3 linked regions of the Homo sapiens genome follow. The protein of the gene in region 3 purifies or fractionates together with the protein of the main gene of each other region. This does not show direct contact. Each region holds a gene or a part of one and is shown on either strand. Other genes may lie near its edges. The genes, in order: ODR4, PPP1R7 and UBXN4.

Region 1 (3,653 bases), on a different chromosome or scaffold from region 3:
CCTGTAATTGCAGCTACTTGGGAGGCAGGGGCCAGGCGTGGTGGCTCATGCCTGTAATCCCAGCACTTTGAGGGGCCAAGGTGGGCAGATCACTTGAGGTCAGGAGTTCAAGACCAGCCTGGTCAGCATGGTGAAACCCTGTCTCTACTAAAAATAACAAAAATTAGCCGGGTGTGGTGGCAGGTGCCTGTAAGCACAAGCTACTCGGGGTGCTGAGGCAGAAGAATGGCTTGAACCTGGGAGGTGGAGGTTGCATTGAGCCGAGATCGTGCCACTGCACTCCAGCCTTTGGCTACAGAGTAAGACTCCATTTCAAAATAAAAGAAAAGGAAAAGAAGAAAACTAACAGAGGAACAGAAAACCAAATACCGTATGTTCTGACTTATAAGTGGGAGCCAAATGATGAAAACACATGGACACATAGAGGGGAAAAACACACACTAAAAGGAGGGAGAAGGAGAGGATCAGGAAAAATAAATAATGGGTACTAGGTTTAATACCTGGGTGATGAAATAATCCGTATATCAAACCCCCATGACTGAAGTTTATCTGTGTAACAAATCTGCACATGTACTCATGAACTTAAAAGTTAAAAAATAAGTCCAGGAAAAAAAAGAAAATGATGTAATTGGAATCCTGAAACTTTACAGGAGTGTCATCTGAATTTCATCTGATTTCCAAATTGTAAACTGCTGACCTGCAACCAAAGGCCACATGTTGTTCTGCCCTGATGACAGTTCAAAAGCTATGGCCATTTTATAAAAGAGGTTTATAGAGGCTTCTAAAATAGCTTTGACCTGAAGGAAGCGGAACTTTTGTGATCTCTCACTTTTTAAAGCAGGGATCAGCAAACTTTATGTGAAGAGAAAAATACTACATATTTAGATTTCACAGGCTGTATTTTTATCTCTACTGTGTAGCATGAAAGCAGCTACAGGAGATACATAAGTGAATGATCCTGGTTGCATACCGGTAAAACTTTATTTACAAAGATGAGTGGCAATGTGGGTATTTGCCCACAGGCAGTGGTTTGCCAGTTGTTGCTTTAGAGGAATGAAAGTATGGAATTAATTGTTTTAAAGAGTGTACATTGATACAGAATACATAAAGTAATATCTATATAAAAAGCTAAATTAAAATAATTAAAAGACTTGTTTTTTTCTAAGTTACTTAGTATATGTACAATAGTTTATAAGTTGTCTTTTATGTTTTACAGGCTTCACAGTTTGGCTTTTTAACTTTTGTGTTTTTTCAGAAAAAATCTTCTAGAGGAAATACTCAAGCAACTAGTCATTCTTTTGATGTCAGAGTGCTAACGCAGTTGGTAAATATTTTAAAATAACACTTAAAATATTTATTAGCATAACCATAATGAAACTGTTTCTGTTTTTATTTTTCTCATTAGAGAATAAAAGGATTTTAGAGCTGTAAGAGACTGTATGAAATGGCTGGTTATAGGAAGGTTATTCCCAAGAAACATCATTTTAATAAAACCTGTTTGGGTTTTTTGCCTCAAGGATATTAAAATTTTAACATCAATAGATAGCAGTTTAAAAAAATATGTACACATACATGCATACATATACATGTATGTATGTGTACATATTTTGGGTTGTAGCTTTTATAGTTAAAGTTGCAATTTTAACAACTTAAAAGATGTGTACACAGAGGTGCAAAGAGTTGTCATATGCTTATTTTGAAGTAGATTAATTAGATTTATACCCCCTGATTTGATAAAAATCACAAAGTATTAATTAGCAAGTTTTATATTTATGTATGGTTGCTTTAATTTACACGTCTTTTCGAAAATTTAAAAGTTGGATATCTTAAAGAATAAAAAGTTAAAGCCACTAATTATTCCTAAAAATACATACCTTTGATTTTAATCCTACTTGAAATTATCCTAAAGAACAGACAAGGGTATAAAATAGCAAACGCGTGTTTGTAGGAAACTTTATTTCAATATTATACTGGATTTTGAAACAGAAATACTCTCAGGACTTGTGTTTTTTTGAACTGAATAGAATAGAATTAAAAGCAATTTGGCATTTGAGGATGTTTTAGTTTCTTCTTTTTCTGTGTGTAGCAATAGCGCATTAGTAAATTGTCTTTGGGCCTATGCCACTCAATGTGAGTTCTCAATTTCATTTTTCAATACCTTAGAGGTATTTTAGTCTCTGATTTTCTACTTTGTCTTGATTTTAGAAGTGTCCTTTGTTTTGAGGCTGGCTATTCCACTACTTATGTGCTTTTCACTAGTTAGGCTTACTTCATGGTTTATTAAACAATTTGGTTAAGATTATTTTATTAGTAGTATAAAATTGTAGTTGGGAGATGTATAGAGTGTGGGAATATAGAGAGATGAGTGGAAGATAATCTCATGAGATAATTTATTGTAGTAGTAATATTATTGTTATTTTTGAGACGGAGTCTCGCTCTGTCTCCCAGGCTGGAGTGCAGTGGTGCGATCTCGGCTCACTGCAAGCTCTGCCTCCTGGGTTCACGCCATTCTCCTGCCTCAGCCTCCTGAGTAGCTGGGACTACAGGCGCCTGCCACCACACCTGGCTAATTTTTTGTATTTTTAGTAGAGACGGGTTTCACTGTGTTAGCCAGGGTGGTCTCAATCTCCTGACCATATGATCCGCCTGCCTCGGCCTCCCAAAGTGCTGGGATTACAGGCGTGAGCCACCGCGCCTGGCCAGGTGTAGTAATAATATTATATAGTATAATATATTTTTGGTAGTCACTCCACCGATCACCTAACTGGAAATTTTGAAGTGACTAATATACAGTAAGTAGTCAGTAAGTATTTATTGCCACTTTTCTCCCAGTTAAGTCTTATTGATTCCTTATTTGTAGTATTAAGCTTTTCTTTTATTTTCCATACAGTCCTGCTGTCATTAGCCTTACAACAGTATTATTTTACCTAAACTAGCACAAGTAGCCCTTAACTGGTCTCTCTTCATCTATACATTCTTGTCCAAAGTGATTGTTTCTCTAAATCCCTTCTACCTTTGTTAGTATATCTCTTGAAATACTTTCCATTTATCTACTCTATCCTGTTTATACACTCAGATGATCATTTCTGAATCATAGTTTATGTTCAGTTATTAATTTTTTTCAAGAAGTATTTATTGAGTTTGTACAACAGCCGGACACTGATTATGGTACTCCTTGCTCAAAATTTCTTAAGTGTTCTGTACTGACTAGTTAGAGAAGTCCAACTCAGGGTTCTTCATAGCCTCAGCATACCTTTTTGTTCTTATTTTCTACCTCTTATTTTCTAGATGTATGCTTGCCATACCTTTAAAGCTCTGTATTTCCTGAACTATGTATCATGTCTTTGCTCTTTTCTCTGTCACCCAAACTGTCAAAATCCTATCTGTACATTAAGATCTAGCCCAAATGCCACTACTTGTGTAAGATTTCATTTGGTTCCCATAGAAATGGGGATCTTCTCTTTTTCAAATGCCATGTCAGCATCATAGAAGTTCCCTCACCTATAGGCTGTTTGGCAGCCAGGTTATTCCTAAGTCCAAATAACCAAGAGGAGTTTACATTTGTAGACCCCAACTGGTCTACATTTCCACCTAAAAGGAATGAGTCAGACCTTACATTCTTTAAAACTTTTCCTGGCTGAGCATGGTAGCTC
Region 2 (3,653 bases), about 110 Mb from region 3:
GAATATACTAGTCAGGGCTGTCTGCACCTACCCGGATGCGGTTAGATCCCAGCTCTAGCATCTGTAGTTGATGTAAGTTGCTTAAGTTCTCAATTTTACTGATTTTATTGTTGACCAAGAAGAGTTTTTTCAGTCGTGTCAACTTGTCAACCCCTTCGATGTTTCTCAGCAGATTAAAAGAAATATCTAGAATCCTGAGAACAACCAAAACAGTTTTTTAAAAAAATTTCACGAGCATAGGTTGCATAGAACTCACAATTTAACCACTAAAGGTGGCGTCCCCATCAGGGGACGGCAGTCACTACCGGGTGGGAGAGGGTGGGGGGTTCTGACTGTGCCCCTGCTGCCGCCTGGCTCACACTGATGCTGTCATGAGGGATTTGGAGGCTGCCCAGGAGCCCGGAGCAAGCCAGAGGCAGCCTACAGGCTCCTGATGCCCTGGCTCCCAGTATGGTATTTGAGGCAGAAACTATGTTTTGTTCACACTTGTGCCCATGACAGGACCTCACACCAGGCTCTGCACACAGAAGGGGCCTGAGAAGTATTGAATTAGAAACAGAAACAAAACAAGCAAAAATGAATGAGCGACAAAGGGCAGAAATCCAGGTAAAGTTATAACTAGGACCTGGCTCCTTCTTTTTTAATTTTAATTTTAATTTTTGTAGACAGGGTCTTGTTATGTTGCCCAGGCTATCTCGAACTTCTAGGCTCAAGTGATCCTCCCAATTTGGCCTCCCAAAGCACTGAGATTACAGGTATGCACCACTGCACCTGGCCTAGGACCTGACTCCTTAAATTAGAAATGTCACTTTTTTTTGTAATTAAAAAAAAGAGTATTCAAAAGGCAAGAGGCAATTCTGGATTAACTTTCCTCTCTACCGATCTCAGTATCATCCCTGAATGGAGGCTTTCCAGAAGTCCCCACTGCAGCCTTCCCATCAAAGATTTACTTTGGAAGTCAGGATTGTTCAGGAAGCCAAAGACATGCATGAAGCCGATGAGGCCTCCTGGAGCCCTGAAAACAGGAGGCAGAGACTTGGGATTCAGATGCAGGGCAGGACCCTGTGGCAGAGGCAGCCTCTCAAGGGCTAAGAGCCAGCAGGAGGTTGGCTCTGGAGACTGGACACCCCCCACCCAGTGGCCTTCCCACCATGCTGTTCTCCTGTGGGTCTCATGACTCACTCCAGCTCTGTTAGCGCCTCCAGATTCTCAATCTTCTTGATCTGGTTGTCGTAAAGATCCAGCTCTCGAAGACTCTGTAGCTCCTCCAGATTCTCAATGCATTTAATTAAATTTTGGCGGAGGCAGAGAGTCTGGGGGATGGGAAAAGGGACAATTGACACAGGCAAGGGGGAGGCCACGAGAAGGCCTCAGCTGATACTGGAGGACACAAGAAAGGCCTTTCTGGTAGAAGGACATGTCTTCATTCTCCTGCTGTTTCCTAGAAAGGTGCTGACCTTTGAGAGGCAGGTGGGCAAGGGCACTAAGCTATAATTCCTTAACACACCTGAGGAAGGGCGGGAACCCAAAGGGAGGCAGGAGGCAGGCTCCCCACCAAGCAGGCCAGTTGGGGAGGGAGGCGTTGGCCTGGGGTGTGGGTGTCTGCCACTTCCTGGCAGAACATAAGAACCTTTGGTGGGCTCAATTTTGACAAATTCCAATGAGAGGCACGGAGGACTGTAAAAGTCAGCGAGTGCCTAATTGAACACAGGCACAGAAACCGAGGCAGGCCAGAGTCACAGGTCACTGGCTGCCTGGGCTCAGGAGAGCCAGCCCCAGGGCTGTGCCTCAAGTCCCTCGACTGCTGTCTCACACCTGCTGTGCTCCCAGTAAAGAAAGGCCTGCTACAAGGTGGAGGCAGCCACGCCGCCCACAGGCTGGGACAAGGACCACAACTCAGGACTGACTGCTCGATTCTGGACTTATCCACATCCTATGGGTGAGCGTCATAGTCCCCTCATAAGAGTCCCTCTCACCTTCACTTTCTTCAGTACCTCAAATCCTTCAATCTTCCCTATGCGATAGTGATTCAAATCAACATCCTGAAACAAAGCAGAAATCTATACTCAGCTATAGCAAAGTGGCTGGAGACCTGTGTCGTCCTAGAAGAGGCGGCCTGGAAGTGGGCAGCAGTGGGGGAGGCAGTGCCAGGTGGGTCTGCAGCAGACAGATGTCAGTGACAAGGTGTGCTGCGGGGGCTCTTTGGCTTAGTGATGACTAAGTTTTATGTAAAACTGGCCCTTAAAATGATTGGTACATGACATCTTTTTCTCATTCCTTAGATCCTGTATGCACAAAACATAAGCTCAGGTTCTGAGGATATGCACCCCATCCCATCACCATCAGAGACACGCTGTGGGCTCAGGAGGCCCAGTGGCCAGTCATACACAGCCTGGGGCCATTGGGACCCTCATGTATAATGTAATCATCAGACCCAGACAATGTATGAGTCAAAGGCATCTCATCTGCCACACAATCCTCAAGGGTCGAATAGACATGGGGATAACAATCACTGGTAAGAAAAACATGAACACGGGACTCTGACTCAACCAAGGGAGGCTTAGGCCACCTCTCTAGGGAAATAACTTACTAATCTCATACAAGATAACCTGACAGGGTGGTCCATCACCACGCCCAAGGCTGGGCTGAGCAGGCGGCATTACCTCTGCATCTCTGTCCAGGTTGATGGTTTCCATGTCCACAGGCAGCTCATGTTCTTCTGAAAAAATAAGAAAAAGAGATTTGTTCAGAACCCCATTAACAGGAGGCACTGGTGAAGAGCTGCTTCTGGCTGAGGTCTGGGGCTGTTTGGTGCCCAGAGCCAGCTCAAACCCCGAGGAGGAACCAATGGGAAGGTTTGCTGAGGACCTGGAGAATGTGGCAGGGTTAGACCCTGCTCCAACAATAGTGATGTTTTAAGCATTCTGAATTTCCTGAATTCAGATATTGGCAAAGGTCACCAAACATCCATCTGTGCCTTTGAACTTCCTGAGAAAGGAAATGTGTTTTGAACCTGTTAGTGGGAAGGAGGGGAGGAAGTAGCTGAGTGCAGGTGAGCAGGGTAGCACTACTGCCTTTCCGTGACTCCCAGAGCTGCAGAACTGGCAGCAGCCTGCCTCCCATGTAGCTTTTCTCTTTTTGTTTGTGGCAATAAACCAGGCCATTAGAATCTAGACCATGCTGGGCACATCAGATGCTCTAGGATGGGCCTTTTATTGCTTTGGAAGGTGGCCCAGCATCTACAAACACTTCCCTCTGCAAAGAGCAAAACAAAACAAAACATAGTTCAACAGATAGGATCAAAGAAGCTCACTGAATAATTTAAACACACTTCTCAGTGGGGAGACTGGTGAACTCACTCCAGCAGAGAAGCCCATTGGATTTCACGAGGACTCTCTACCCCGGAGCCGGCATCCTCTGTGCGGAGGAGGGAGAGAGCTGCTCTCCCTGCTGAGGCGACAGCTTCCCTGTTAAGCACTTCCTCATTTCATTTCATTGGAACCTACTTCAGCATGTGTGCTGAAAAGGACTAAGACACACACAGATGCACACACACACGCATGCACAAAGACACACAGGCACGTATGCACACTACACAGACACACGCATGCACAACAGTGGTATACACAGACTCATGCAGACACACAAACACG
Region 3 (3,653 bases):
CCCACCTAACTTTATAGTTGATAATTTGATTAAAAATAAGAAATGAAAGATACCAGAGTTAGCAATCAGTCATCCCACTCAGTAGTATTAGGAAAGTTGTCATTAAGCATTGAGTAATTCCATTCAGCTTTCCACCACTGCTGTTCAAGCAGCTGCTGCCACCACTAGGCTGAGTCTAGGACAGACACTGCCAGTAGGGTTGAGACATCTGGGACCCTAATCACATGGTACAGTATAGGTGAGGGAGTGATGCACCAGCCTCACAAGAAGCAAGATTTATACTTTCAGCTACTTACGTGATATCACTGTTTAGATCCTCCCAGGATTCTCAAGCCTAAACGTGTAAGTGCTGCCTAAACCTGTGTTTCTCCCAGTGTTCTGCATCTGATTGGCACTACCATACATCTGGTTGGATAAACCATAAATATGAGAGTCATCTTTGACTCTTAACTCTTCAGTCTCTTCTTGAGCTCCGGATTGTTCACAACATTCCAAATCACATAGGCCTTTCCCTACACACGTATTCCTTCTGCGTGGTGAACTCTTCTGGCTGTTGGCATGGCTGAGCTCTCTTATCCTTTAGATTTTAGCTTAACTGTCACCTCAGAGAGGGCTTCTCTGACCATTATAAAGAGTTCTCTTGTTATTTTCTCTCATAGATTTCTTTTTAGTAGCATTTATTACTGTAATTACGTATAGTGTCTATTTGTTTAAAAATTTTGTATACCATTAGATTTTAAGCTCTGTTGAAGGCAGACAATGTCTCATTTGGTTTATATTTAGTATACAGTTCAATGCCTAGAACAAAATAAATGCAATAAAATAGTGAACATATAAAAGAATGAATGGAAAGGATTTCTCATTCTTCACAGCCTTCTCTGAGAAGGGTTCGTAGTAAGAATATTCTCATATACTTATTTTTCTTTGGTAGGTGAGTCATTTATTTGGAATCTTAATCTCTCCTCATCAGATGGTTTCTGAAGATGCATTTAGAGTGATCTCACTTGCAAATAGTAACTTCTCGTTATTTTGCATCTTCAACATCTAGGAGTCTGCTAATGGAGCATTCTTAATGGAGCATTTGGTCTGTGGATGCATTCTAGTCCCGTTTACTTTTTTTTTTTTTTTTTTTTTGAGATGGAGTCTCACTCTGCCGCCAGGCTGGAGTACAGTGGTGCAATCTCGGCTCACTACAACCTCCACTTCCCTGGTTCAAGCGATTCTCCTGCCTCAGCCTCCTGAGTAGCTGGGACTACAGGTGTGTGTCACCACGCACAGCTAATTTTTGTATTTTTAGTAGAGACGGGGTTTCACCGTGTTGGCCGGGATGATCTAGATCTCTTGACCTCGTGATCCGTCCGCCTAAGCCTCACAAAGTGAGCCACCGTGCCCGACCCCGTTTACTTTTCCATGGTCAAATTTCTCAAACTCCTATTTCTGGTATTCCTGAATCTCATCTCACAAAATATATGCAAATAAACAGCATTAGAGTCAATTATTATAGGCATGCCATCATACTTACTATATTAGGCATTTAGCTATTCCACAGAGTACTTATTGGGTGCCTACTATGTTTTGTAGAGATTTTAGTCTTGTCAGTAAATAAAATGGAACCAATCCTTGCCTTCATGGAACCTTCATTCTAGTTAGGGGAGACAGATACTAGTAAACATAATTAAAAATGCATAGTATATTGGAAGGTGAAAGTAATACAGAAAAACAACAGGAGATAAGGGAGCTTTGGGAATGTCTCAAGAGTGTAATTTTAAAGTAAGTGAGTAGGAGAGTTGTAATATTAAAGTGGGTGATTAAGTATCAGCTTTATTGAGCTGATATTTGAGCAAAGTTTTAAGGGAGTTGGAAGTTAACCATGTAGTTATCTGGGGGAAGAACATTCCAGGCAGAGGAAACAACTAGTACAAAGACCTTATGGCTGAAGTGTCTTTCATATTTGAGGAATAGAAGGAAAAAGAATAGCAAGAAAGGAAAAAGGAATGAGGTCACAGAGGTAGTTGGAGTCCTGATGTATGGGGCCTTCAAGCGCCCTGTAAGGACTTTGGCTTTTACTTTGAGGAAAATGGGGAGCCATTGTGTGATCTAAGCAGAGGGTTGATGTGATCTTTTTTTTTTTAGAGAAAGTTGCTGTGTTAAGAATAGACTTAGCAGGAAGACCAATTTGGAGGCTTTTACTAGGCTTCCAGGTGAGATGTGATAGCTTGGATCAGGGTAGTTAGTAGTGGAAGTGGTAAGAAAGTTACATTCTTGATTTATTTTGGAGCTGGAGTCAGTTACAATCAAGGAAAACTAGTTTTTTGGCCTGAGAACTGGAAGGATGGAGTTACCATAAACGAATAACTGCAATGAGGAAGGCCAAAGTGGATTAAATTGTCCTGGCCAACATAGTGAAACCCCATCTCTACTAAAAATACAAAAAAATTAGCTGGGCGTGGTGGCGGGCACCTGTAATTCCAGCTGCTCAGGAGGCTGAGGCAGGAGAATCGCTTGAACCCGGGAGGCAGAGATTGCAATGAGCCAAGATTGCACCATTGCACTACAACCTGAGCGACAAGAGTGAAACTCCATCTCAAAAAAAAAAAAAAAAAAAAAAAAGATACAGAACGTTTTCAGCATTCCAGAAGGCTCCTTCATGCTCTATCAAGGTAGCCACTATACTGAATTCTATCACCATAGATTAGTTATAGGTTAGCATACCTTTTATAATTAGCATACCTACAATAAAAGGCAAGTCTAAAATTGCAAACAGAATTGTACCTGCCTCTGTCTACCTTGGATTAATTTTGGAGTATAAATGCTGTGGAGTGGAGATGTTGAACTCAACAGAAAGGTGCCACATAAAGGACAGATATCAAACTTTTTATTTTTCTCTCTCTCTAGACGGTCTCACTGTGTCACCCAGGCTGGAGTGCAGTGGTGCAATCTCCGCTCACTGCAACTTCCACCTTCCGAGTGCAAGCAATTCTCCTGCCTCAGCCTCCTATGTAGGTGGGATTACAGGCATGCGCCACCACACCTGGCTAAGTAGAGATGGGGTTTTACCGTGTTGGCCAGTCTGGTCTCGAATTCCTGGCCTCAGGTGATCTACCCGCCTCAGCCTCCCAAAGTGCTGAGATTATAGGCGTGAGCCACCGAGCCCAGCCCACAACTTTTATTTTAATAAAATCTTATGTACAAAAGCCCAAATAGGCACTGCACCGATGACTGCTTATTATTGTGGTACTTTGCGCATCATAATTTAGATGGCTTCTTTTATGAAATATTTTGTATCATTTAAATAGTCCAGTGTAGTTTGTTTTCATTGCTCTTCATGATGTGAACTGTGTATGCAGTCACACTTTTCATTTAGTGGAAAATTCAGTTTTCAAATTTGGCAGAAAGTGGTATAGGTGGGATTATATTTTATTTGAGGTTTCCGTTTTCCAGGGGAAAAGAGTTTGCAATCAGCAGATCCCAGCCTGGTATAAGAATTTTTGAAATGTTTTACAGGTGATGATGAACAGTCTACACAGATGGCTGCAAGTTGGGAAGATGATAAAGTTACAGAAGCATCTTCAAACAGTTTTGTTGCTATTAAAATCGATACCAAAAGGTTTGTTTATGTTTTAATATTTTATTAATTTTAAAATTTATAAGTA

Evidence for each region.
Region 1: the proteins of UBXN4 (region 3) and ODR4 purify together in Homo sapiens (affinity purification with mass spectrometry, with the first as the bait; one large-scale study listed by BioGRID). This does not show direct contact.
Region 2: the proteins of UBXN4 (region 3) and PPP1R7 purify together in Homo sapiens (affinity purification with western blotting, with the first as the bait; one study listed by BioGRID). This does not show direct contact.

Annotation. Positions count from the first base shown.
Region 1 is NC_000001.11:186,392,692-186,396,344, forward strand, and holds part of ODR4 (protein odr-4 homolog), read left to right. Parts: intron 1-1,255; coding exon 1,256-1,324; intron 1,325-3,653. UniProt on the Homo sapiens protein: May play a role in the trafficking of a subset of G-protein coupled receptors.
Region 2 is NC_000002.12:241,156,873-241,160,525, reverse strand, and holds part of PPP1R7 (protein phosphatase 1 regulatory subunit 7), read right to left. Parts: intron 2,720-3,653; coding exon 2,664-2,719; intron 2,043-2,663; coding exon 1,977-2,042; intron 1,314-1,976; coding exon 1,183-1,313; intron 195-1,182; coding exon 32-194; intron 1-31. UniProt on the Homo sapiens protein: Regulatory subunit of protein phosphatase 1.
Region 3 is NC_000002.12:135,744,763-135,748,415, forward strand, and holds part of UBXN4 (UBX domain-containing protein 4), read left to right. Parts: intron 1-3,504; coding exon 3,505-3,607; intron 3,608-3,653. UniProt on the Homo sapiens protein: Involved in endoplasmic reticulum-associated protein degradation (ERAD). Acts as a platform to recruit both UBQLN1 and VCP to the ER during ERAD.